Regions from separate parts of the Homo sapiens genome. Here region 2 is linked to region 1. Evidence: fine-mapped expression QTL. Tissue or cell type: esophagus muscle. Region 1 holds a variant in brackets; the other region holds the start of a gene. All regions are shown on one strand. Distances are between the middles of the regions.

What was found. PIP is the estimated chance that this variant, and not a neighbour inherited with it, causes the effect.
Region 2: it holds the start of MEGF10, and the variant in region 1 is fine-mapped to the expression of MEGF10 in esophagus muscle (GTEx, PIP 0.91).

Annotation. Positions count from the first base shown.
Region 1 is chr5:126,638,659-126,641,346 of GRCh38, forward strand. No RefSeq gene overlaps it. Among named protein-coding and RNA genes, the nearest start is that of SPMIP10, 8.3 kb to the left of the region's middle. The variant A/G (reference allele first, on the strand shown) is at 1,516.
Region 2 is chr5:127,289,394-127,292,081 of GRCh38, forward strand. It overlaps MEGF10 (multiple EGF like domains 10), which reads left to right and starts at 1,403. Exons shown (of 25, transcript NM_001256545.2): 1 at 1,403-1,663. LOC105379199 reads right to left here and starts at 1,343. Exons shown (of 4, transcript XR_007058921.1): 1 at 1,185-1,343.

The sequences.
Region 1 (2,688 bases):
ATCTCGGCTCACCGCAAGCTTCGCCTGCCGGGTTCACGCCATTCTCCTGCCTCAGCCTCCTGCGTAGCTGGGACTACAGGCGCCTGCCACCACGCCCGGCTAATTTTTTTTGTATTTTTAGTAGAGAAGGGATTTCATCGTGTTAGCCAGGATGGTCTCTATCTCCTGACCTCGTGATCCACCCGCCTCGGCCTCCCAAAGTGCTGGGATAACAGGCGTGAGCCACCGCGCCCGGCCAGCACAGCTATTTTTAACGTGACAAATGCTTAGTATGCCGTCTTCATATCGCGTGGCACATATAAATTCTGTTTAACTTATGCCAGGTGCTTCGTAGCATATCAAAGATAACTGAGATGGCAGCCTTGGATAAGAAGCGGTTCAAACTTGAGGTTCTTGGCATATCCTCACCAAAAAAGCTATTTAGTAATATAGCTGGGACTACAGGCGCACACCGCCATGCCCAGCTAATTTTTTTGTATTTTTAGTAGAGACTGAATTTCACCATGTTGACCAGACTGGTCTTGAACTCTTGAGCTGAGGCAATCCACCCACCTCGGCCTCCCAAAGTGCTGGGATTACAGGCATGAGCCACTGTGCCCAGCCAGTAATACATTTTTTTTAAATGTTAGGTTATTTGTTTTACTTATTTGTTTATGTATTTATTTATTTTGAGACGGAGTCTTGCTCTGTCACCTAGGCTGGAGTGCGGTGGCGTGATCTCGGCTCACAGCAACCTCCGCCTCCCAGGTTCAAGCAATACTCCTGCCTCAGCCTCCTGAGCTGGGTCTACAGGCGCCTGCCACCATGCCCGGCTAACTTTTGTATTTTTAGTAGAGACGGGGTTTCACCACGTTGGCCAGGCTGGTCTTGAACTCCTGACCTCAGCTGATCCGCCTGCCTCGGCCTCCCAAAGTGTTGGGATTACAGGCGTGAGCCACCATGCCCGGCCTTTTTGTTTTATTTTCCTAGATACAAATTATTGCTATGTTGCACTGGCTGGAGTGCAGTGGCTATTCACAGGTGCAAACATAGCATACTGCGGCTTTTCTAAAAAACAATATTGCCGGGCACGGTGGCTCAGGCCTGTAATCCCAGCACTTTGGGAGGCTGAGCTGGGCGGATCACGAGGTCAGGAGATCGAGACCATCCTGGCTAACACGGTGAAACCCCGTCTCTACTAAAAATACAAAAAATTAGCCGGGCATGGCAGCATGCGCCTGTAGTCCCAGCTACTCGGGAGGCTGAGACAGGAGAATGGCGTGAACCCAGGAGGCAGAGGTTGCAGTGAGCCGAGATCGGGCCATTGCACTCCAGCCTGAGTGACAGAGCAAGACCTCATCTCAGAACAAACAAACAAAAACAATATTTTAAGATTTAAGTATATACATTTTTTAGACAGAATGCTATTGAGCACTTAGTATACTACAGTATAGCATAAATGTAATTTTTTTTTTTTTTTGAGATGGAGTCTTGCTCTCTCACCCAGGCTGGAGTGCAGTGTCGCGATCTTGGCTC[A/G]CTGCAACCTCCGCCTTCCAGGTTCAAGCGATTCTCCTGCCTCAGCCTCCTGAGTAGTTGGGATTACAGGTGTGTGCCACCAAGCCTGGCTAATTTTTGTATTTTTAGTAGAGATGAGGTTTCACCATGTTGGTCAGGCTGGTCTCGAACCCCTGACCTCGTGATCCACCCACCTCGGCCTCCCAAAGTGCTGGGATTACAGGCGTGAGCCATCGCACCCAGCCGTAAATGTAACTTTTATATGCATTCGGAAACCAAAAAAAAATTGTGTGATTCACTTTATTGCAATACTTGCTTTATTGCAATTTTTCCAGTGAAGGAAATTAAAAGTACTACTCCAGGGAATACATGAATGATAAATGACACAGCCATATTGCTGATAGGGGGAAAGTTTTAGTGGTCTACACAGAAGATCAAGCCAGCCACAAAATTCCCTTAAGCCAAAGCTTAATTCAGAGCACTTCCAGTGGTCTGGAACTGAACGTGCAGTATCTCCCTCCCTGCATTCCTGGGTTAAATCACATTTAGTCAGGATGTATAAGGTGCAAGTATAAGTCACATCCTGACTAAATGTGATTTGACCTAGGAATGCAGGGTTAGATTAATATCCAAGAATCAATTAATGTAACACTCTATATCAAAAGAATAAAACACAAAAGCCACATGATGATCTCAGTAGACACTAAAAAAGCGTGTAACAAAATCTAACACTCCTTCGTGATAAAAACTAGGAATCAAAGGAAACTTCCTCAACCTGATAAAGCTCATCCATGAAAAACCCACAGCAAAAAATTGAAAAACAAACAAAACAAAACAAAAACCCCACAGCTAATATTATAACTAATGGTGAAGAAAGATTGGATCACTTCCTCCTAAGATCAGGAAGAAGATAGAGATGGCTGCTCTCACCAATTCTATGTATTATAGACTCAGCTTCCTAAGCCTCATGAGGCAACCTCTGCTAGCTTCAGACTATTCTTCTGCAGCTTCCTCACCTCTCAGCTTCCCTGGATTAGGCTTTGTCTTAAGGGAATTTTGTGGCTGGTTTGACCTTCTATATGGATCACTAAAACTTTCCCCATGTCAGCAATATGACTGTTTCACTTATTAATATCATTCATGTATTCCCTGGAGTAGCACTTTTAATTTCCTTCAAGAACTTTTCCTTTGCAT
Region 2 (2,688 bases), 650 kb after region 1:
ATCAAAGTTCCAACTCCTGGCAGAGAGGGCCTGAGGGGCTTAGCTGAGGTCAGTTGCTCTCTTCTGGACAGGGAAAAGCTGGACCATCCTGACTGACCTTCCACCCAGACTGCTGTCCTTGTGGCAGGGATGGTATCTCAAAGAAAAATGGAGGTACTGTTACCAGAGAAGGGGCAATGATGACTGCTAAACAAACAAATAAACAAACACCAAAACAGTCTTCCCCTGTGTATTTCCAGGGAGAGTAAAGAGGATGGTGAGGGGCTTCAAACATATCTATGTTCATTCATTCCATTCATTTATTCACTCAAACATAATATGGAGTCTGTACTATTTTCCAGGAGCGTTATTGAGTAGGGACTCGAACGCTCTTGAAGTCTCTCTAAAAAGAAAGAGTTCTTATTAATGGGAGGAAGAGAAGCCTGGTAGGAGATGGTTACCTGGAGTGGTTATGGGGCTTAAACCTGTTTTTGTTTTTTTGTGGGGAGAGGGGGATAGAATTCAACGACACAAGAAAGAACTTTGCAGCAGTCAAATTTGTATCTTTTGGGGTCCTGTAAAAGCTGGAAAACTCTTTAGTCTGGAAGAGGAAGATGGACAGTCAGAGAAGCAGATTCCAGAATTCATGTCCTGTCTAACCCACAAATGGAAAAGCCCGTTCATGGTTTTAACATTCCATCACTGGGCCTCCCGGGGCCTCCTCGGCGAGTCGGCAGAGGGAGCCATTCCCCAATAAATTGCCGCGCGAGGCCTCCGAGGACCTGGGGGGATTTTCCTGCGCGTCCGGGGAGTTCTCTCTCCGCCCCTCCATGGTAAAGCAGACTATCCCACCCTCCACCCTCTGCCTTCACCTCCCCGCCCCACCTTTCCATGTACTTTGCTGCCACATCACATTCTCTGGCACGGCTTAATCACCATCCTTTCTGGGTCCCACCTTTGCGCTTTCTCCCCTGACACCACTGAGGACCCGCCGTCCACTCCAGTTGGCCGCTCGGGCGCCGGCCACCGTCCCACAAATCCTTACAGAGGGTCTAGAACACCTCCCAGGGACTCTGCCGAGGGACTTGCACCCAACGTGGGTTGGGAATCAGGCGGGCACCCACTCTGACACCCCTTCGGTCACCCCCTGCGGTGACCCCAACATTTGCTAACTTCGCGACCAGGCCTTTGGCGGGGTCACCCACCAGGCGGTGGAAGCCGCTCAGGCAGGGGCGACTCACGATCGAGGTGCAGCAGTCAGGCCGGGAAGATCCTGCATGTTGCGCTAGGGACTGCGCGCGGCGCCAAGCGACAACCCCCCAGCGGCCACTGCCCCGGCAGCAGCAGCTGCAGCAGCGGCAACTGCTCGAATCCCGGCCCCGGCTCGGGTTACCCGCCCCCACCCCCTCCAGCATCTCGGGCCAGACAGAGAAAACCTTGTTCAAGTTTGCAGCAAGTACTTTCCCGGTGCGCAAAACTGGGCGACTGGGAACGCGTTGAGACGTTCCTCTTTCCCGCTTCTCCACCTTTACGCCTGAAAGAAGACTCCCAAAGATTGCTTTCTTCTGGGACGCTGCTTGGACGCTAACCGCGTTGATTGGAACAGATTTTGTGTCTTGGCTGGCTTTGGGTGAAGACCGGGGAGAAAAGGTTGCGCTGCGATTCTCAAGATCTCTGGACCTGGGTAAGAGTTGGGCAAACTCAACTCCGGCGGCTCCTGGACCTTGGCCGGACGCCGGAAGGCTTCTCATGGGCGGGGGTCACATTTTCCTTAGCCAGGGTACCGGGGTGCGGCGTGAGGTGGGGCGAGATGGGCTCAGTCTGCGTTGTTCATGCGCTTCTTAAGGGTTTATTGTTGTTTGCATTTGGTTTTGTTACATGGGATTGTGTAGGAAAATCCTGGAGTATTTTTGATGGAGAGACATCCTCATTACGCATTTTATTTTGCATAATTCCTGCCCTTGTATTGCCTTACCTTGTGTTTGTTTCATTTTGCCGGGCGATATAGCTGGATGTAGGGAGATTTGTGGGGAATCGGACTGAGCTTGAAAGGCAGTTTCAGCTGGGCCCTTTCTTCTAGGTCAGTTGAACTTCCTTTCTGGGATCTTCACTGTTTTCTAAACTTCTCTTTCTCCCGTCCTTGGTATTCAGATTGTGCAGATAACGCTCTAGGCTGGCGGGATGCTCCCCTTTCCTGAGTTCTCAGCGATCAGTAGGGGTGTGAGGTCGCAGTCTTAGACCAAAGGGGCCTTGTCAGTATGCTTGGCTCCTTAAGGAGTGCTGGGAGGGACGGTTTTTCAAGTGATAGTTACTTAAGAAAGATAAATCCGGTGTTGATCTTTTTCTTTTAAATTCCTTGTTAGAGGACTTTTACGCCTGGTTTAAGGAAGTGTTTTGGCCTTAATTTTCTTTCTGGAAGTATTTTTCTTAGTGACACCACTGAGCAAATGAATGATGGCAATATCTTTGCTGCTTCTTTAGAAAATATCCTCACGCAAGGACCCACATTATTTAGGAGAAAGTCAAAGTTGGAGATCTTATTAGCCAAAATTAGCCATTATTATTGTTCTTAGGCTGTGATAACCATGCTGTGCCAAGGCAGAAGAGAATGACATTTCTTCTTGTTCTTCTTGCCTTACTCCTTTATATCCTGGGTCTCACTTTGTGTATAGGGTTCCCAAATAAAAATGCTTCATTCCTTATGGACAG